7 linked regions of the Homo sapiens genome follow. The protein of the gene in region 7 interacts with the protein of the main gene of each other region in a pairwise test. Each region holds a gene or a part of one and is shown on either strand. Other genes may lie near its edges. The genes, in order: RTN1, EPB41L1, USP33, MSMO1, EPC1, SLC5A6 and CHRM5.

Region 1 (3,147 bases), on a different chromosome or scaffold from region 7:
GATTGGTAACCTGGAATGTATATTTTAATGAACTCTTCAGGTGACTTTTTGGCAACTAGAACTGTGTTCATAAACTATAGCAAAGAATACCAGAATAGGAGTTTGGAAACTGGAAGATAGAAGTTCTAGACCTAAGTTGTCCAATACTTAGTTTGAGTATCACAAATCATACCTATTACTTTTTCATTTGGTTTGTTGGTTGAGTCCAAAAAGAGGAGTACCTGTTATGTTCTGGACACTTCATATGATAGGTACAGAGGGTATAAAGATAAATGAAATGATCTCAGCCCTAAAAGAGCTCTTAGCCCAGTGGTGCAGACAAAATTATACAGAAATAACTATAATAAAATATAATAAGTACAGTAGAGCTATATGAAATACTAAAGTCAGAGAGATGAGGAAACAATTGTTCCTTCCTGGACAGGATAGTGGAAAGCCATTAAGATAAGGTGGCATTCAACCTGGGCCTTGAAGGATGGGTAAACAGTCATCACGTGGATGATAAGGGGAAAGACGTTGCAAGAGGAAGAGGTAATAAAGCAAAGACAGAGAAGCATGAAAATGTAAGTCATGTTTAATAGGCAACAGTCAACCAGTATGTCTAGAGCTTAACTGAGTCGAAAGATCAACTGGAAAGAATGTAGGAAGAGAGGCTGAGGCCAGGTGGTGAATGCTCTGTGGAGTTTTGATTCCAACCCAGCAGGAAATGGCCACCCCTTGATGTTTTTAAGCAGGGGATTGATATCATCAGATTTATGTTTTTTAAAGATCACTATGGCAGTCTAGTGAGAAAAGAATTGGAGAGGGGAGAGACTAGAGATGTGGCCATCAGCTAGGAGGTTATCATAATTCAAATAAAAGTGACAAGGGCATGGCCTGGTTAAAATGGAGGGAAAAGAGAGATGGCAGAGAATATAAAGTATATACAATGTACTTGTTAAATTACAATTGGAAATCAATGCTGTGAAAAGGAATGGAAAGGAAATGTTACCTATGACTAATATGGCTTCTGTAATTGAGCTTCAGGCAGAGTTGGCTCTGAATTTCCTGGTAGCTAGGACAAAAAGAGAAACTAGGCAAGTCACATGGTTCTCACTATCTATCAGAGAGGAGGAAACAACAATTCTTCCAAATAACCTGTTTTGCCTGGCACTACATTTTGAAGGAAATTTCTTGGTGGGATCTTAACTCTAAGTCCTCTTCAACCTCTGAAATTGTAATTCCACCTTAGAATAAATAATTCCAGCAAAAGAACTTACACCACTTTAGTGGTACAGTTAAGAACATGATTGTTAGAATCAGACAGACTGAGTCCATTTCTGGCATTTTTAGCTGTATGAGCTCATCATAAATGTTATTTGACTCTATGAGCCTATTTCCTTATCTGTAAATTGGAAATGTTAATACCACACAGGGTTCTTGGTGATTAAATGAGGTAATGTCTGTAAAGTATTCTTACTTGGATGTAGGAAACCCTCAATATTATATATCATTGTCATCATCATCATCATCATCCGATTACTGCTTAGAGATCGGTTCATGGGGCTTGGAGGTAGAGGACAGTCCCAGATTGGGCCAGTAGACACCAGGGCCAGTCTCTCCTCCATACTGAGTGACCCTGTCTAGGTCGTTTCACCTTTGTTTGTCTCAGTTTTCCAGCTTAAAATAGGGGTTAATAATGCATAATAACACTTCTTAGAGTTTTGAAAATGAGGAAAAAAGCCTCAAATTTCAAAAGGCAAAATAAACACTGTAGAGGAAATTAAAGCTTCGAGTAAGTGAGACCATAATAAGAAATCTGCTTTAAGTGAATACAATTCCCTATGTCTAGGTGAGTTATGTTTTAGAATGACAAAGTAGCTTGTAATTTTACCTAGAAGCTCTCTTGGTGACCTTTGATAAATCTCATGGAATAAAGGACATCCTGAAAACTCAAATTGGAAAGGAGCTGTCACGATCTTCAAATGAGAAGAAAGAAAGATTCTAGATGTTATATTTGATAAACTGAAGGCCTAATTTCAAGCAAAAATCCAGAATGAATTAGTAAAACTGTAGATACTCAGAATAGATCAGTGTATCTTCACTAAACCCTGAGATGAGATGGACTTCCCTAGCCAGTGAGTATTCTGATTTTAGTGGGGGTAGTCAGCAAGTCTTCTTGGTGTCCTTGTGGAAAAAAATGGAGATGTATGATCCAGATGATAGCACAGGTGGTAGAATTCTAGAAGATTGAAATAATAGACCCTAAAGATGTTCATTAATCCATCCAATATGTGTCTGGGCCAAGGTATGTGACACAGGGCTCTGCCTTTGATCCCATTACTTTCAACCCCATTACTTCTCATGACTATGTGAAGACAAATCAAATATCTTTGTCAAAGTTCCAGATGATGTACAGTTTGAAGCAAAAGCAAATTCAGAAGATGGCAAGCTCAAGATTCAAAATGAATCAAGGGATCTTGAGTAAGCGAGAATGCCGAATTGAAATCAATAAAATGAAATTAATAAGGAAAGTGAAGTCCTACATTTAGGTTTCTAAAAAGTCAACTTTACAGATATAGAATGCGGCGAGGGATAGATGAGAGAGGGTAACAATAAGGGTGTATGTAAAAAATACCTCGGGGGTTTTAATTGCTTGATTGGTCACAGCCAAATGTGAGTCAATGATGTGCTGAAGCATCTTTAAAAAATCAATGCAAGTTGAGTTGTTATTAGTAGGAGTACAAAGTCTAAATCAACATAGGCAACAGTCATATTATATTCCATATTGGCCATCCCATATCTGTGTTCAATTTCAGGGTTGGACATTTTAACAGATGCATTAATACATTGGAGTAATGCCACAAAGATGACCAGGGTACTGTGGTATTAGAAATCTGATAGTAATGGGCAGTGAAGAGCAAACTTTGCTGGGGATGATTACCCTGGAAAATAGATGACTTTAAAAGGACACCATAGCCATTCTCAAATACTTGGAGGTCTAACATTGCTAAAGGAGTAGGATTTCCCTTTTTCTCTCAAGAGCAGTGAATGGAAATTTTAGAAGTTCTGAGATTTGAATGAAATATGAGGGAAAAGAGTAATGATTAGAGTTGCTCAATAATAGAACCATCTGCCCCATGAAGGAGTGAGTACCCTGACATTCAT
Region 2 (2,780 bases), on a different chromosome or scaffold from region 7:
TCCCCACCAATCAACCAATTACAAACACCACACACAGTATTACTACACTGAACCCGTCAGCCCCTACTGTGAGCCAACCCACACCCAGAGTCCAGGTCTCCTTAGCTGGGCCAGTTCAGTGAGATCTAGGAACCTCAGGATACATCAATCACAGTCAGATAATTATAATTTTAGAATGTCAGCTTCATACTTACCAGCACTGTTTATTTTAATATTTTTTCCTGTTATATGTAATATACATAACTTCAAAGCACATCCGTACAAACCTCCTACAAGCTGCACCTTCATAATGAGAAACCATAAGCATACAATGTCTACTTCCCTTCCTGTGGCTTCGTTTTCTGTTCTTGCTTTCTTTTCTTTTTCTCATTTCAAAGGAGAGTCATCTGCAGTGGCCCTCAGAAGGACCAGGACACAGAGGGTGAAGGGTGTGGGGTGGGGGAAGGGGGAAGGGGGAGGAGGGAGCCGAGACAGAAAATGACAGCAAGACATTGAGAGTTGAGGGTGAGGGGAGGCGGGAGAGAGGAAGGTAGGTTTTGCAGCCCAGTGTCAAGATCCAGAAAGTAAGAATCCAGTGTTCCTCCTCTTTCTTTCCAAGTGGGGAATTTTCTTTTTTTCTCGGAAAATGGTTGACTGTGCGTGTCTTGCTGCTGTGACTTCTCTTGCTTTGCTGTGCAAGTGTTTTCCTTTGCATTCAAGTGGGCCTTAGAGATGCTGGAGAAGAACAAATGGAATTGCTCGTCTGCTAACTGTAACGTGCAGAACCAGGGCGGGAGGGACTTCTACAATCATCGTGGTCTGGCTTGCGTTTCTTATTTGGCGGGGGAAAGGGGTGAGCAAGGGATTATAGTTATTATATAATTTTTTTTCTTGAAAAAAATCCCACCAGTTCTTCAATTTGTCTGCAAAGGAAATGTAGGTGTTCAGATGTCGGTTGTTGCTGTCAGCCAACTGCTCTGCCAGCCCCAGCAGCAGTGCAAGGATGCGGTGTTTCCTGTATATATATCTATATCTCTATATATCTATATATATATGCTTTTCCCTTCCCAGTCTCTCATCAGTGACAGTACGTCGCAGCTGGGACGTCAGTGTTGCGTCGGAGAATCCAGAATGAAGGCCCCTTCTTAATGGTTCTCTGGCTTGGGTTGGACCAGAAATGCCAGGATCTCTTCACAGAGGTCAGGATTCCTGGAAGCCAGAGGCATGGGGTAGAATGGGGGGTGGGGAGTGGGGGGAAAGGAAGGAAGAGGACAAGAAAAATTAGTAACTTCTGTCACTTGTTTTAAAATACATGGCAAGAGGTTGTTTTTGCTACCCTTTACCATATGCCCTTTATTGTGACTCAGCAAGGTAGAGTGACTTGCACCTGTAATCCCAGCTACTTGGGAGGCTGAGGTGGAAGGATCTCTTGAGGTGAGAAACTCAAGGCTGTAATGTGTAATCATCATGCCTGTGAGTAGCTATTGCACTCCAAGGCCACGCAGCTTGTGTGTGGCAGCAGAGAACCGAACCCACATCTGTTGGATTCCAGAGCCCATGTGTGTTTGCTCGCTTGTTTCCAGGGAGGTGGTAATCTTTTACTTTGGCCTGACAATGTGTTAAAATGTCCTTTAACACCGAGAAGCTAAGATCATCATCATTTTACTTTTTCTTCCTATCTTGTCAGCTCTAAGAAATGTTTAGTCACGATTGCAGATGTTCTTTTTTCATTTGGTTTTCCTTTCTGTTGTCCGTGGGCTTGCTGTGTCCTGGAGATTAAACCACAGACAGCAGTGTTTAAATAAAGAAATGAAGTCTGGATTCCAGGTTTGGCTCCAAAACTCAGTGTTTAAAGGAGCAGGCTCTGAAATCAGACTCCCTGAGTTCAAATCCCACTCTATGGGCCTGCTAGCTCTGTAATCTTGGGTGAGTTTCTTAACTTCCTTTACTTTAAACAGTTTTTAACAGACGAGTCTTACTATGTTGCTCAGGCTGGAGTGCAATAGCTATTCACAGGCACAATCAATGCACATTACAGCCTTGAATTCCTGGCTGCAAGTGATCCTTCTGCCTCAGCCTCCCAAGTAGCTGGGATTACAGGTGCACGCCACAGTGCCTGGCAAGTTTCTTAACTTCTTTAAGCCTCAATTGCTTCCTCCGTAAAATAGGTTCTGCCTCCCATTATAGGGAGGAACTGAAGCAAGGGCCCAGCATATAGTAAGTGCTGAATAAATACTGGCTGTTCTTATTATGATGATTGTTGCTGTTGTTAATTTAACCACACACTACTCTGATCTCCTTGAGGGTAAGGGCTATCTTTTAACTCTTGTCTTTCCAGTGTTCAACACTGTGCCTGGCACATAGCAACTACTCAAAACCATTTAATGGATGAAACATCATTTCTGCTACTTGCATGCAGTCGAGTGCTAACGGAATCACAGAAAATGGATCTTTCTTGGCTCATTTGACACATAGGAAAACCGAGGCCCAGAGGCTTCAGGCTTAGTAAGTTGGCAAAACCAAGACTAAAACCCAAGGTTCCTGTTTTGGAACAGGTCAATTTTTTCCCATTAAATTTTGGAAGGTTAGGAAGCTAGGCAAGTGCTGCCCTCTTGCTGGTGGTGTTTGGGAGACAGGTCCTCTCTGAAGGAGGTGGGCCAGTGGGAGAAGATGGAGCAGAAACCAGACGTCTGACCTGCAAGGTTGCAGGGAGAGAAGGGAAAAGGTTCTGTGTGACATGAGTGACTTTCCACGCTCATAGCAAGAACTTCAAGAAGGAAGAACTTTAAGAAGGAAGACAG
Region 3 (2,683 bases), on a different chromosome or scaffold from region 7:
ATCACTTGAACCCAAGGCGGAGGTTGCAGTGAGCTGTGATGGTGCCACTGCACTCCAGCCTGGGCAACAGAGCGAGACTCCATCTCAAAAAAAAAAAAAAAGAATTAACTATAATAATTTGCCTGAGAAATAACCAGTCTGATAATGTAGTTATAGGTCACAATTTTGTCAAGCACAAAATTATGCAATTTTTTGTTACATTTCTTTGAAAAATACATTTTGATATTTTTTCCTTTAGATCCTCCAGGTCCTATTGACAATACTAAGATTGCAGTCACTAAATGTGGTAATGTGATGCTTAGGCAAGGTAAGTTTGACTCGTATTTAAGCTTTTACTTGTGAGTGATTTGTCACTGTTAGAAATATGTTATCATTAGTCATCTATAGTACTTTTTTATTCAACTGAAGAATGTAATCCATACATTAACTAGGGCAAGTAATGAAAAGCAGCCACTTTTTTTTTATCTGAGGAAAGGTCTTAAGGCTGTTGTTAAGAGCAAAGCAAAAGCATCTCTGACTTTTTAAGACAAGCCATATGTTTCAGCTTATAACAATATGGGCTGGTAGTCTGCAGATTCATGTTCCAGAAGTTCTCAATTATCCCGAGAAGATTCATGCTGGGGGGTACATTATGAACGCTTTTGCAATATGAATATATAGGTTTGTAAACATTATTTCTTCTACGTAATTTTAAGGAGCAGATTCTGGCCAGATTTCTGAAGAAACATGGAATTTTCTGCAGTCTATTTATGGTGGAGGGCCTGAAGTTATCCTGCGACCTCCGGTTGTTCATGTTGATCCAGATATACTTCAAGCAGAAGAAAAAATTGAAGTAGAAACTCGGTCTTTGTAATTTTTAGGATGTAGAGAGTTCTAATGAGGAATCATTTTCATGTGCCCTGACATGTACACATGCGAAAACATTCCTAAAAGCGTGTTTATTTGCTTTATTTTTTTTCATCATTTATCCCATTTATTTCTTCTTAGTGGGCATTATGGAAGAATATATTAAAATGTGTAATATACCACAGGTTGGTATATTTAGTTTTAAATACTTACCATAAAGTCTTTCAGTGTAATTTTTTTTTGAGACAGAGTCTTGCTTTGTCACCCAGGCTGGAGTGCTGTGGTGTTACCTCAGCTCACTGCAGCCTCCACCTCCTGGGTTCAAGCGATTCTCCTGCCTCAGCCTCTCGAGTAGCTGGGATTACAGGCACCTGCCACCATGCCCGGCTAATTTTTGTATTTTAGTAGAGATGGGGTTTCACCATGTTGGCCAGGCTAGTCTCAAACTCCTGACCTCAGGTGATCCACCCACCTCGGCCTCCCAAAGTGCTGGGATTACAGGTGTGAGCCACAGCGCCTGGCCCAGTGTAATATTTTTGAAAGAGGAGGGACAATTGTGAAATCAGTAGGTTATCTTTAATCTTTACACTACATGCAGATCCATAGTATCCTTTGTAGTGTTGTAAATACTTTTGCTTTGAAAACTTTTTCATTGTCCTAAATCACCCTGACTCTGACCAGTCTTTCAGTTCTCCAAAAGCCCAATTTAATTGTATAGTTTTGTCATGGCTTCATATAATAAAGAGCCTATTTTAAGTTGAAAGTAGTAGTCAGAAAATTGTTAATTTCCTAAAGCTCAGGAAACTAGGGTGTCACTTTTTTTGCACTGCAGCATATACACTAACTAGCTTATTAAAATTTACAAAATGTCTTTTTGAATGTATCAAGGATATATTTAGTTTGAGTGGAATTTGTCAGCAGATATCAGTAACTTATTGCCGCTTATATTGTACAATGTTAAACTTCAATTCCTGTAACCTGGTTAGTATTAATGTCAGTGACTAAAAAACTTAGAGTTAGTTTTAGGGCACTTTTTATTTTGAGAGCATGAAGTGTGGAATGTGTCACTACGATTGTTGATAAAGCTGAGGCCACTTGCAACTTGATTTTTTAAATGAAATAGATAAAGTCTTTTTGAATAATATAGTATGCACTGCTATTTGCTTGATTATGTAATGTCAAAAGTTTAACTATATTCCAAGTACAAAAACATACTGGATTACATTGAGGATGTTGAATAGCATTCATGATGGCTTTGTTTTGGTTTGGGGCAGCTGTCACCAGCTAAAGCAATGTTGTTAAAATTAGCTCAATAAAAATGTCTTTAAAATGTAAAACTTGAATGTTGAATTTATTTGATAGATGTTAAAGGTAAAAGGTGCAAAGTTTGTTAATATTAATACCTTCTTGCTGTTCCTATTTTATTTTATTTATCTATTCTTTTGAGACAGAGTCTCACCCTTTCCCAGGCTGGAATGCAGTGTCACAGTCTTGGCTCACTGCAACCTCCGCCTCCCAGGTTCAAGTGATTCTCCTGCCTCAGCCTCCCAAGTAGCTGGGATTACAGGTATGAGCCACCACACCCAGCTAATTTTTGTATTTTTAGTAGAGATGGGGTTTCACCATGTTGGCTGGGCTAGTTTCAAACTCCTGACCTCAGGTGATCCACCTGCCTTGGCTTCCGAAAATGTTGAGATTACAGGTGTGAGCCACTGTGCCCAGCCAGTTTATTTTAAAATTTTTATTTATTTTGAGACTGGGTTATGAGACTGGCTAATTTTTATCTCTTTTTTTGGTAGAGATGGGGTTTTGCTATTTTGCTCAGGCTGGTTTCAAA
Region 4 (2,998 bases), on a different chromosome or scaffold from region 7:
TTTTTCAAATATGAGTTAAGTTTAGGTTTATTACAGAAGGATAAGGAAATTGCTGGTCCTGAATATATACTTGCCCTAATAACACATTATCACTATAAAAATTATAACAGCATAGGCTAGAATGTAAAAACATCTATTATTTAAACTTTTATCCAACAGTTATGTTTTCTTAATATAACATTAAGAAGATTAACTTCTCCTATTAGTCTCCTTAGAAATATGATAATCTTATGGCCATGAAAATAAATATATTTCATTATGCTTTATACCTGAACAGAAATTAATACTCACCTATGGACATCAATAGTTTCTAATAAACGAATGGTCACCCATGCCCAAAGAAGAATTACATGATCACACAAAAGCACGATTCCAATGAAAAATCCAGTTCCAAGAATTAGAGTCTCCAAAGGATGTGCATATTCAGCTTCCATTCCAAATGGAGCCTAAGACAAACAGATAAGAAATTCTTAATTTCTTAGCTATTGTGATGGTCAATTTTATGTGTCAACTTGGCTAGGCTATGATATCCAACTGTTTGATTAAATACCAGTCTAGATGTTGTTGTGAAGGTATTTTTTAGATGTTGTTAACATTTAAATCAGTAGACTGAGTAAAGGTGATTACCCTTCATAATGAGGGTGGGCTTCATCCAATCATTTGAAGGCCTTCAGGATAAAAGGCTGAGGTTTCCTGAAGAAGGATTCTCGAGACTGCAACACTGAAACCCTGCCTGAGTTTCCAACTTGCTGCTCCATGGAATTTGGACCCAAGGCTGCAACAATTCTTACCTGGATTTCTAGTCTGTAGCCTGCTTTACAGATTTCAGACTTGACAGCCGCACACTTGCATGAGCTGATTCCTTAAAATAAATCTCTCTCTGCATATATATACCCCAATGATTCTGCTTCACTGGAGACTTCACTAATATATATATCCTATTTATGCATAAAGTTTTACAAAGTTATATTGATTCTATATGTAGTGATGATTTATCTAGTCATACACTTATAAATAATACTAGCAATTCTCAATAAAAATACCTTACTCCACATCAAAAGTCTAGGGATATAAAATCTTGCTGTCTTTGATGGTTTAAGATAAAGGCATTAAATAATTGACTTGAACTCTAATTTTGACTTAAGTATTTATATTTGTTCTTCTAATAAAGAGAGGCTTGATTTGGCACACCATGTAATCACGGTCAATGCAAAACATACTCACATAACCAGTTGACAAAGCTACATCAAAGCAATTCTAATTGGCCGGGCATGGTGGCTCACGCCTGTAATCCCAGCACTTTGCGAGTCCAAGGCGGGTGGATCACCTGAGGTCAGGAGTTCGAGACCAGCCTGACCAACATAGTGAAATCCTGTCTCTACTAAAAATACAAAATTAGCCACGCGTGGTGACGCATGCCTGTAATCCCAGCTACCTGAAAGGCTGAGGCAGGAGAATTGCTTGAACCCAGGAGGTGAAGGTTGCAGTGAGCTGAGATCATGCCATTGCAGTCCAGCCTGGGCAACAAGAGCAAAACTCTATCTCAAAAAAAAAAAAAAAAAAAAAAAAAGCAGTGCTCATAGAAGTTACTGTTTTTGTGGGAGTTAGCAATGTGAGGATCTAGCTGTGCCAGTGTAGCACTGTCCACAAGGATGGAAGTCCGAACTTTCATATAATATTTTTCTTTCAGATCTCAATTTACCATGAAATTTAAATAATGAAAACAATGTGTAGAAATGGCTTGTTTGTATGTGTGTGTATTGTTCTTAATAATCATGCCAAAGGAAAAGAAAATAAAAACGTCACCAACAATTTTAGAAAAATGCTCAGGCAATTAAAATAGACATTTTGCCTCTAACAGAAAGAATTAAATATAACTCTCACATACCTGAAACTCATGATGAACTTTATGAATATACTTGTATATTCTTTTGTGGTGTAAGAGTCTATGCAGAAAATAGTGCCAAGTATCTTCAATGACTGCACAACCAAAGCATCTTGCCAAAAGAAAATACCTTTAAGATAAAAATGTTGTAATGTGTAAGAAATAATTTTTACTTAAACTATCCAGACTTTTAGTTGGGATCACTGCTTGAGACATTACATAAAACCACCCACCCACTTACCAGGTTGACCTAATTGGATATATTCATAAATAAATTCTCAAAACCACCAGATACAGCTACATAACTTGATATAAGGTTAAAGAGACTGCCCATTAGACCAATTTCATTTCATTACAATGTTCACACAACTTGCCTCATGACACTTTTCTCAAGAGATATCCGTTAAGTGACGCATGAGTATATATATGTGTGTGTATATATATATGTGTGTATATATATATATATATATATATACACATACATATTTTTGTTCATGTAAACACAATTTCTATAAACCTCATAAATGATTCTCATATATTTCATTCATTTTAAAATTAAAATGTAATATATTTTTGTCAACATAAGCACTTATACATGTATATAAACATACAAAAGACGTTATGGAAACTTCTGATACTAGAAGCTCACCTTCCAATAAAATATTTAAAAGATGTAAAAATGGAAACATTTTAAGATTTTACTGTGGTTTACTTTTCTACTATTTATTTACTTCCAAAGTTTAGAACAAACATTAACTAAAATTAAGAAAACGGGTAAACATTAAGTATAACTTAACTGAATAAGCCACAATTGGGTGTAAAAGCCAAATTTTTATCTACGTACCATCTTGGCATTCTTTCCCAATCATAAGGAATATTGAAATACTCTGTAAAATAATAGGTTCCACAAATCAAAGGCAGCTGGATACAGAAGTGATTAAAGAGAAGAACTTTGAAACACTTCCATTGGTTTTCCCATGTCTCTGGCTTATCCTACGAAGAAAAATCACAATATCTAATATTAGTCTCTGCTATCAGAGTTTAACTTGACCTAATTTGTTCTCTGTTTATGTTGGACCTTAATTCTACGTCAGTTATGTTAACTTTATATAA
Region 5 (3,454 bases), on a different chromosome or scaffold from region 7:
ATTGTATGTGCTTTTTTTTTTTTTAATTGGCAAAAAAGAGAAAAAGGTTTCCTTTTTAAAAACTGCACACACTTTTTTGGGGGGGTAATAAATGAACATTTTTTTGTTTGTTTTTTTTAGAACTGAGCTCTCCATAGACAAACATAAGTAGCATAACACAGTGTCTTTCCTCAGACATCATTCTGTACAGTAAATCAACATAAACAACTCCGTTCTTATTGACTGGATTTTTTCCAGGTGGGTTAATTGGGTGGGGAAAATTAATTAACCTTAACATTAGAGCCTCTTTTCTTCCTGTTAAACTTAAAGGATGAGTTCTTTAAAAAAAAGCAATAAACCAACCAACAACTGTAATCTTTCATATAGAGCAAATTTTTTTAATGACTACAATTAGAAAATATGTAGAACTATTAGTATATATACACAGAGCCATTAGGGATCATCTGAATGCCTTGGGAAGATATGGATTAAATAGAAACCAAATGTAATTATCAGATATTCTCTCAAGCTCAGTGCAAAGCTGAATTCCAAATCTATGGATTTTAAAAGCTGATATTATCTTTCTACACTGTGTAGAACAAGTGTCACAGCTTAAAAAAAAAATAGTGGTGTTGAAATTTGGGAAGTGAGCAGTTCTCTTTCCTGTGTTTAATTCAGGAAGTTTAATTTTTTTTTTCTTTAAATTCATGCCACTCTTGTTAAATGTGGTAGCAGAAACGCAGAAATTTTCATTTGGAAGTGATCTTTAGCAGGATCATGATCCTTTGTCAGATGCTTCAATTTTGCACAGATTTAATGCAGAATTTTTGTTTTAGTACTGTAAGACATACATGACAGCTGGGCATTTTTATAAAGTGTTTCTTTATTTTATGTTCAGCATTTACAGCCGAACAATACCAGCAACATCAACAGCAACTGGCACTCATGCAGAAACAGCAGCTTGCACAAATTCAGCAACAGCAAGCAAATAGTAATTCCTCCACCAACACATCACAGGTGAGGGATTTGTCTGTCTTATGATTATCCCTCATTGTTTCCCACCAGAGTTCATCTCTAATTACCAACTGTTGTCATAGAACCTTGCATCTAACCAGCAGAAAAGTGGCTTTCGCCTGAATATACAGGGTTTAGAAAGAACACTACAGGTGAGTATGGAAGCTGTTGCCTCTGCTCCCTATTTTAAAAAGTAAAACTAAAGCACTTAGTTAAATGAGATGAAGATACTGTCTTCCCGTCTGACCTGTAGTCCATTAATGTACCTCTTGAATATATAACCCCACCCAGTTCATTCTCTTGGGCATGTTAATTATTATTAAGGCTTTTAACATTATGCAAAAATAACCTCTCCAACTGTTGAAAGAGATAACTTTTAAACCTAAAGCATGATAAACGTTTGCCAGTTAAACACATGTAGGGCATAAAGGCTGAGGTTTGAGTCCCTGCATCTTGCAGGAAAAATATATTTTTAAAAAGTTGAGGGGCCTATCAATTTCTAGGTTAAATTATGTGATATTTTGTTACTTCCATTTCTAAAGGGATAGTTATCTTATCCCAAAGGTGCCTTTCATTGTGTGTGTATACATATGTGTGTGTGTATAAGTTAGGTGAAGGAAGTTTACATATTCATTTATTCATTATATGGATTTGCAAATCACTGAAATGTTTACTAGCATATTTCTTGTCCAACATTTTGTGTTGGAGGTTTGCTGTTTCCACATTATAGAAGGCTTATTTTGGTAATTGACTTATACATATTATATATTGTCACATATGAAGCAAAATTTATAACTTAGATTACTTTTCACTTATCAAATATATGACTATCAAAAGAGATATAATTACTGTTGCATCTCAAGGTACCAAAATAGAAAGATTTCAGTGGTTTGCCATTTTTACTTATATTCAAACTGATTTTGGTATGCATGTGTAGTTTTGATATTGATTTGATACTAAGTGATACTGATTAGATTTCTTTTGTATTTTCTTTTTAGGGTTTTGTTTCTAAGACTTTGGATTCTGCTAGTGCACAGTTTGCTGCTTCTGCTTTGGTGACATCAGAACAACTGATGGGATTCAAGATGAAGGATGATGTGGTGCTTGGAATCGGGGTGAATGGCGTCCTTCCAGCCTCAGGTAAGAATAAAGACATTTAAATTGTTTGGGTTATATTTATAACATATATCTATAATATAAACAGCAAAGTTGTACATTGTTTAGATGTTTCTTTCTTTTTCTCTCTAGGAGTATACAAGGGCTTACACCTCAGTAGTACTACACCAACAGCACTTGTACATACAAGTCCATCAACGGCAGGTTCAGCTTTGTTACAGCCTTCAAATATTACACAGACTTCAAGTTCCCACAGTGCACTGAGTCATCAAGTAACTGCTGCCAATTCTGCAACAACTCAGGTTCTGATTGGGAACAACATTCGATTAACTGTACCTTCATCAGTTGCCACTGTAAACTCTATTGCCCCAATAAATGCACGACATATACCTAGGACTTTAAGTGCTGTTCCATCATCTGCCTTAAAGCTGGCCGCTGCAGCAAACTGTCAAGTTTCCAAGGTCCCATCTTCATCCTCTGTAGATTCAGTTCCAAGGTGAGTAGTTATTTTTGCCTAACATACCTGGAATAAGAGATCTAACTTCAGTCCTCCAGCATCGTTCTTTACCTATTTCTTTGTGTTTCTTGTTCTTTTCCTTTTATACATTGAAAATGTATAGTTGAGAATTGATCACTTATTTATTCAAGAACTAAACAGTTCTTGAACACTTAATTCAATATTAAGAATTTGAACTAACTGGTATAGTGAATGTTGCATATATGATTTGGAACATCCCTTTCTTACTATAACAATAGTTATACCAGGTGCAGTGGCTCACGCCTGTAATCCTAGCACTTTGGGAGGCAGAGGCAGGCAGATCACCTAAGGTCAGGAGTTCGAGAACAGCCGATCCAACATGGTGAAAGGCCACCTCTACTAAAAATACAAAATCACCCGGGCATGGTGGCGCATGCCTGTAATCTCAGCTACTCAGGAGGCTGAGGCAGGAGAATCGCTTGAACCTGGGAGGTGGAGGTTGCAACCAAGATCGCACCATTGCACTCTGGCCAGGGCAACAAGAGCTAAACTCTGTCTCAAAAAAAAAAAAAAGCGTATAATGCTCTCAGTTTTCTTCCGTCTTTGGATGGAAGGAGTTCTCCTGAGAGCGTTTCTTTTATGACTTTTTTTCCACAGCTTCTCATGTAAACAGGTAGAATTGATAGAAACCCCTGCCCCATCACTGGTATGCTAAGCTATTCTTTTTTTTTTTTTTTTTTTTTTTTTTTTGAGACCGAGTCTCGCTCTGTTGCCCAGGCTGGAGTGCAGTGGCACAATCTCAGCTCACTGCAATCTCTGCCTCCCAGGTTCAAGTGATTCTGTCTCAGCCTTCTGAGTAGATGGGAT
Region 6 (3,500 bases), on a different chromosome or scaffold from region 7:
TACCCCAGAGGATTGCCTTTGAAGACAATATGATACGCTTGGAGAACAGACAGGGTGGATGGTGAATCCCTAGACCTGGGTTCTAATTTATGCTCTGACAATAGTCGGCTCTGTGCTTTTGGAAAGGTCACTTGAACCATCTGAGCCTTAGCGTGTTTATCTGTGAAATCGTCAGTGGTGGGGGGTTGGTTGTAATAGTGGTGTCCAAAGATTTAAGATTTTAAATATTATGATCCCTTCCCTCTTTCTCTGAGGATTGTGGTGTATTCTTGGGGGATTAACATTTCTTGTGCAGGAGTTAGAAAATCAACTTTCAACTTTCCCATGTTTTCAGTTCCTTCTTTCCAACTCCCTCCCGCACAGAGTGCCAAGAGTACTTTAGGCTGAAAGGCTAATCCATCTAGGAATGCTGTTGAATATGAGCTCCCTCTTCCCTGTTCTGGAGCCTCTAGGGCTGAGTTGGAGTTTGGGGGCCATAGGGTGATAGGGCCATTTGGAACACAGCCATTGGTTCCCTGAAGGGGCCAGAACAAATGACTGCTGAGCTTCACCCCACCCCCAATTCCTGATCTCTCACCTCAGCTACTCATAGAGCCAGATCCTCAGCTCTGCAGCTCCAGGCAACTCTGCCTCAGAACAGGGATTGCTTCTCCAGGTAGGTGTCTGTCCCCAGCAGGATACGACCACTCTCTTTGGCTGGTCCCTTTGCCTCTCAGCTCCGTGACTGGGTTGCTTCTCTCCAGAATGGAGAATCGTCATTCTGAAACCCTGACTCCAGCATGGTGCCCTCTCACCTTTCCCCTCTCACTTTTGAATCCAGCCGCTCTTCCTGCGTCTGCTGTTGACTGTGATGTTGCAGGTAGAGGGGCTGAGAGGTGGGTGGCAGCACTTATCTAGTGGTGTTGGGGAGAACCTTAAGAAAGGGGTTGGCCTGGGGACGCCTGAAATGGAGTCTGTGGCTGCCACAGAGGCAGTCTCACTGATGATCAGTTAGAAGGGTGACACTGGGGATCACAGGAGGCGAGGGCCGAGGCCAGGGGCAGTAGGGGAAGCCCTGCTGCCATTAGTCTCCATGCTGTGTTTCCTGCTGGGCTGTGGCGCCAGGCTGGGCTCTGCTGGCTTAGTGTATTGTAGTGACTGGGTCTGTGCCTTCAAGTGGGGCTGGGAAATTCTGCTAAGAAACTTAGGCTAGAGTTTATTTTTCTTTTGGTACTCGGGTGGAGACCTAAGAAGGTTGTTGAATTTCACAGCTGTGCATACTCAAAGGTCCTGGCCAAGTTATATTGTCTCCTGGCTGTCGCACTCTGATGCTTCTCCCTCACTTATGTCCCCTACCAAACCCATACCAGGGCCTCTAGACCTTGAAGGGCTACCACTATGCTGGCTGGTCCACTTCTGATGGCATGCGATGTACAAGGCCCAAGGGTGAATGGCTACCAAGGCCAGATAGGCCTCACTAAGAGCTAATTCCTTTGCAGCTCACCCTGGACAGTATCACTCCGTGGAGGAAGACTGTGAGACTGTGGCTGGAAGCCAGATTGTAGCCACACATCCGCCCCTGCCCTACCCCAGAGCCCTGGAGCAGCAACTGGCTGCAGATCACAGACACAGTGAGGATATGAGTGTAGGGGTGAGCACCTCAGCCCCTCTTTCCCCAACCTCGGGCACAAGCGTGGGCATGTCTACCTTCTCCATCATGGACTATGTGGTGTTCGTCCTGCTGCTGGTTCTCTCTCTTGCCATTGGGCTCTACCATGCTTGTCGTGGCTGGGGCCGGCATACTGTTGGTGAGCTGCTGATGGCGGACCGCAAAATGGGCTGCCTTCCGGTGGCACTGTCCCTGCTGGCCACCTTCCAGTCAGCCGTGGCCATCCTGGGTGTGCCGTCAGAGATCTACCGATTTGGGACCCAATATTGGTTCCTGGGCTGCTGCTACTTTCTGGGGCTGCTGATACCTGCACACATCTTCATCCCCGTTTTCTACCGCCTGCATCTCACCAGTGCCTATGAGGTGAGCAGGGACAGAAGGGAGAAGTGCGTGGGACACGGGTTGGGGTGGAGAGGAGGGACAGGCACATAGGAAGGACCTGGGACCCTAGACCTCCTCCACCTAATGAGAGGGACAGAAAACTCATTGTGTGTTTATAATTCTTTCTCAGTGATGTTAGGTATAGGGGCAGGATTGGAGAGGAGGGTGCTATGCCGAGTAGGACTCAGAGTGGGTATGGGTTGGATATTCCCTCATGTTCCTGAGCATCTTGAGGGAATTTGTCTGTGAGTTGTCGGGGTGAAGTCAGGAGAAAAATCTTTTTTTCTGTATACCCAGTACCTGGAGCTTCGATTCAATAAAACTGTGCGAGTGTGTGGAACTGTGACCTTCATCTTTCAGATGGTAAGCAGAATGAGGATAGAAACCGAGCCTAGGGCATGTTGGGGGACCTGAACGCAAGCATGCTGAGGGAATTGGAGTCTCCCCTGCTCTCAGATTGGCAGGATTGAAATTCCTGCTAGAGGTTAGCATCTGTGAGGACCCCAGAGGCATCCTGCTGCCCATGCCTTCCAATTCCAGCACAGATACTGTGGTGGCAGCAAGCCAGAATTTGAGAGGAGAAGGAAGAGGGAAGTGAGCCTAGGTGAGGGGAAGCCATGGGCATATTGGCGCTGAGGCCCATCTTTCTTCCTCTCTCTTCCCACCATTCTCCGGCCCCCATCACATTTTTTCCACATGCAACAGGTGATCTACATGGGAGTTGTGCTCTATGCTCCGTCATTGGCTCTCAATGCAGGTGAGGAGTCACACAGCCCCTGGCTTTCAGCCGTGGTAGGTTAGGAAAGCACCTTTGGGAGAGGCAGATGGAGGAGCGTATGTGGAAAAGAACCTGACCTTGAATGGGGAATTAATTCACCGCTTGGGCCCTTGGGTGGGTCTCTACCAGAGGAAGGCTTGGTCCACCTCAATTGACAGCTAGTAACATGTTACCATGCCCTATCTGAACTGGTTAGTCAATATCTTTTGGTGGAGCTCTGCAAACATTTTTCTCCGTTGTGGTGAATGATTTATTTCATTGTTAATGACCAATGCTTTATCTCTGTGGCATGACGTGATTGCCCTACCAGGGCTTCTCCCCTGGGGAACCCTTTTCCAGGGATAAGAATGTGGCTTCTATGCTTACAGTGACTGGCTTTGATCTGTGGCTGTCCGTGCTGGCCCTGGGCATTGTCTGTACCGTCTATACAGCTCTGGTAAGTGCAGTAAGCCGTGGTGTGGGGAGGGGAAGGGATGAAGTAAGGAGGGGACATGGGAAGAGAAGGAAAAGAAGAGATAAGCTGAGAATATAGATGAGGAGAATAGGTGAAATTCTGGGGTGGTAAGATTTATGATAGGATTTAGCAGTGGGGATGGTATATGAAGGTAGAGGATGGGATGGGAATGATGTCAACAGGGTCACAGCAATTACATGCCTAATGGCAGGAGAGTCCCCTCACTGGTAGTATGTTCT
Region 7 (2,731 bases):
TGGCTGAAGATTTTCTCCAGGCTGTTGAATTAAGGTTCTTATATTGTTTTCAGAGATCTTGCTTTCTAATCTCTTCACAGGGCAAACCTGAGCAAAATGTGGAAAACAGATTTGCTTTTGAATTTCTTCCAGAGCCCTTTTGCAGCCTCCAATTTCCCTTGTTCAGATCCCCAGTTCACACCAAGACGCAAGCAGGTCAGCTGTGCTGCCTCCAAGCAGGGGGTTGTGGGGTGAGGTGGGGGTAGAAAGTCTTTTTTTATAGGTCCTTCAAATCAGGGCCTAAAAATGACTTCTTTATTCCTCTCCAAATTCGGTCACAAATGAGAAGGCCAGAAAAGCACACTTGAGGGTGCGATGAAGCTGAAAATGATCTGAAAGCTTCATTTTTAAAAACAAAGTGTAGGTCATAGTAATACATAAAAATAAAACAGTTGACATGCATGACAGCATGAGGATTATTAAAAACCACACTTAATTGAAATCTCTAAGTGCGTATAAACAAACGGAATCAAAGGACCTTTGTGGACAAAAGTCCACAAAGAAGCAGTAGTGTGGTACACAGCAAGGATTTTAAAGATGAAGCACTCCTGTCAGACATTATTTAACTCGTTGGTTACATCTGCAGCTGGACTTAAAAATCACCAGACTTCATGCGTCTTAGTGTAGGCCGGGTCCTTTTCAGTCTCATTTGCTAAGAGGATGGAAAATTAGCTGGTTTAGTTGTCCTGGGAATTAGATATGTACCTGAGTATGGGAGAGCTTCAGCCTACCACTGAAGAGCATCATCAGCCTCTCACAGGATGTCCCACGGAGGCTTCAGGGTAGTAGAATCTCAGGCAGGACGGGACTGGTCCCTTATAAAGACTTCACGTTGACATGAAACATCTTGTAAGCAGTGCATCTGCTGAGCCTTTGTAAAGGGCAGGTTGACACCTGCAAAGAATTCGGTGGGAACAGTAATTGGCTCAGTTCTCCAGCACAGAGGCTTTCGGGCCTCCGTGATGCCAACTGGGTGTGACTTCATGAGCAAACCTGCTCTACCAGCGCCAGATAAACAGTTGAGTCTTCGTTTAAGGCTTTGATTCCTGATAAAGATGAAAACCCCTTCATGAGAATAGGCTTTTAAGCCCATGTTGGGCATTCACCATTCGCAGTTGAGAGTGAAACAAGCTAATTTAAACAAAAGAACACAAATCGGGAAAGGATGCCATGGAGGGCACTCCTCGCACACTCCGCACTTGCTTAGGACTTGGCCTTTTTTGTTCATCTTTTGTGAAATTGATTAAGAAGTGTATTGCTGGGTGTGGTGGCTGACACCTGTAATCCCAGCACTTTGGGAGGCTGAGGCAAGAGGACTGCTTGACCCTAGGGGCTCAAGACCAGCCTGGCAACATAGGGAGACCCTGTCTCTACAAAAAAAATTTTAAATACCTGGGCATTAGCAGGGCATCGTAGTGTGTGCCTGTAGACCCAGCTACTTCAGAGGTTGAAGCAGGAGGATCGCATGAGCCCAGGAGTTAGAGGTTGCAGTGAGCTATGATCACACTACTGCATTCCAGTCTAAGTGACAGAGCAAGACCCTGCCTCAAAAAAAAAAAGAGAGAGAGAGAGGTCAATGCTTCTTTTTTTATCATTGGTTTTGGAAAGCAGCCAGTTTTGCAGACTACCTATGCCTCTTGACATAGACAAAAAATATCCCAAACTACTAGGGACAACTAGACTTCTATAGAATAGCGGCTTTAGTGGGGTCCTCAGAATGAATAGACCTAATTGTAAACTACAGGGACCTGATGGGTGGGTGGGAGGCGCATGGCCTGACTTGAGATCTTAGGCCTTCTATGCCCCCAGTCTTCCAGGCTTTGTCTATAGTAAACCATGTATGACTTTGGCTAGTTACCTACTGGATGCTGTTACTTTGCTATCATTGTAATTTGTTTCCCCTTGGCTGTGAATTTGATGACTTGTCAGGGAATCTGTTTTCCATTCAATTTTTGGTTGAACAAAGCATTTTGTCAATATTCTCAGCTTTTGCTTCGCTCCTTTGGTGAATGTCCTTTGAAGACAATACTGATGCCAGCTCTTTGTAATTGTGAAATCTGTACCCAAACCTCTGGATTAGAATCTCCAGTTGTCTACTGTAAATACTGGAATTACAGCAAAGGATATGGGGACTGGGCTGCTTTTCTGTATTGTATAAGCACTATTCTAGATATTAAAGAAATTTAACCGCACAGTGGTCCAATGCAGAGCATTTAAATAAGAAAATTGTTTCAGAGTAGCCTATTAGATCCATCTATATTGGGTTTCCCACACACCTTTGCATGGCCTGGCCTTTCAAGAAAGTTGGGATTGATACACAGTATGGATACACGTCCTTCTTGCTACCTTTTGTGATTCCTCCTTCCCTCTAAGTTACCAATGACCAAACTAAGATTAAATAATGATGACAAGAGATCTGTGAGTAAAACGCTTTCCCTTCCCTATGGGACAAGGGAGGTGGGGCAGACCTGAAACCACAGTCCTTTACCGAGTGGAGACTGCACAAAAAGGGGCAGCAGCATTTCCTTGTCAACTATTTAAAGAGTCGGTGCCCCACTCCATTCCCATTGTAAGTGATACTAATTTCCATCTTCCCCACATCATTTTACTGGTAAAGTTCAAGATTATGTAAACTCTTGCCCAATAAAGACCCCAGATCGAGAGTGAGCGGAAGAAGGGAAAAAAGTTTAAT

What was found.
Region 1: the proteins of CHRM5 (region 7) and RTN1 interact in a two-hybrid assay, tested with the Homo sapiens proteins (one large-scale study listed by BioGRID and IntAct).
Region 2: the proteins of CHRM5 (region 7) and EPB41L1 interact in a two-hybrid assay, tested with the Homo sapiens proteins (one large-scale study listed by BioGRID and IntAct).
Region 3: the proteins of CHRM5 (region 7) and USP33 interact in a two-hybrid assay, tested with the Homo sapiens proteins (one large-scale study listed by BioGRID and IntAct).
Region 4: the proteins of CHRM5 (region 7) and MSMO1 interact in a two-hybrid assay, tested with the Homo sapiens proteins (one large-scale study listed by BioGRID and IntAct).
Region 5: the proteins of CHRM5 (region 7) and EPC1 interact in a two-hybrid assay, tested with the Homo sapiens proteins (one large-scale study listed by BioGRID and IntAct).
Region 6: the proteins of CHRM5 (region 7) and SLC5A6 interact in a two-hybrid assay, tested with the Homo sapiens proteins (one large-scale study listed by BioGRID and IntAct).

Annotation. Positions count from the first base shown.
Region 1 is NC_000014.9:59,598,630-59,601,776, reverse strand, and holds part of RTN1 (reticulon-1), read left to right. Parts: intron 1-3,147. UniProt on the Homo sapiens protein: Inhibits amyloid precursor protein processing, probably by blocking BACE1 activity.
Region 2 is NC_000020.11:36,227,740-36,230,519, reverse strand, and holds part of EPB41L1 (band 4.1-like protein 1), read right to left. Parts: intron 1,189-2,780; coding exon 1,180-1,188; 3' UTR 1-1,179. UniProt on the Homo sapiens protein: May function to confer stability and plasticity to neuronal membrane via multiple interactions, including the spectrin-actin-based cytoskeleton, integral membrane channels and membrane-associated guanylate kinases.
Region 3 is NC_000001.11:77,695,487-77,698,169, reverse strand, and holds the end of USP33 (ubiquitin carboxyl-terminal hydrolase 33), read left to right. Parts: intron 1-238; coding exon 239-307; intron 308-695; coding exon 696-853; 3' UTR 854-2,183; downstream 2,184-2,683. UniProt on the Homo sapiens protein: Deubiquitinating enzyme involved in various processes such as centrosome duplication, cellular migration and beta-2 adrenergic receptor/ADRB2 recycling.
Region 4 is NC_000004.12:165,337,669-165,340,666, reverse strand, and holds part of MSMO1 (methylsterol monooxygenase 1), read right to left. Parts: intron 2,879-2,998; coding exon 2,730-2,878; intron 2,016-2,729; coding exon 1,889-2,015; intron 447-1,888; coding exon 292-446; intron 1-291. UniProt on the Homo sapiens protein: Catalyzes the three-step monooxygenation required for the demethylation of 4,4-dimethyl and 4alpha-methylsterols, which can be subsequently metabolized to cholesterol.
Region 5 is NC_000010.11:32,270,705-32,274,158, reverse strand, and holds part of EPC1 (enhancer of polycomb homolog 1), read left to right. Parts: intron 1-120; exon of another isoform or gene 121-237; intron 238-877; coding exon 878-996; intron 997-1,044; exon of another isoform or gene 1,045-1,076; coding exon of another isoform or gene 1,077-1,145; intron 1,146-1,991; coding exon 1,992-2,133; intron 2,134-2,241; coding exon 2,242-2,605; intron 2,606-3,454. UniProt on the Homo sapiens protein: Component of the NuA4 histone acetyltransferase (HAT) complex, a multiprotein complex involved in transcriptional activation of select genes principally by acetylation of nucleosomal histones H4 and H2A.
Region 6 is NC_000002.12:27,205,769-27,209,268, reverse strand, and holds part of SLC5A6 (sodium-dependent multivitamin transporter), read left to right. Parts: intron 1-1,478; 5' UTR 1,479-1,618; coding exon 1,619-2,011; intron 2,012-2,326; coding exon 2,327-2,392; intron 2,393-2,734; coding exon 2,735-2,786; intron 2,787-3,175; coding exon 3,176-3,243; intron 3,244-3,500. UniProt on the Homo sapiens protein: Sodium-dependent multivitamin transporter that mediates the electrogenic transport of pantothenate, biotin, lipoate and iodide.
Region 7 is NC_000015.10:34,065,228-34,067,958, forward strand, and holds the end of CHRM5 (muscarinic acetylcholine receptor M5), read left to right. Parts: 3' UTR 1-744; coding exon of another isoform or gene 745-786; 3' UTR 787-2,231; downstream 2,232-2,731. UniProt on the Homo sapiens protein: The muscarinic acetylcholine receptor mediates various cellular responses, including inhibition of adenylate cyclase, breakdown of phosphoinositides and modulation of potassium channels through the action of G proteins.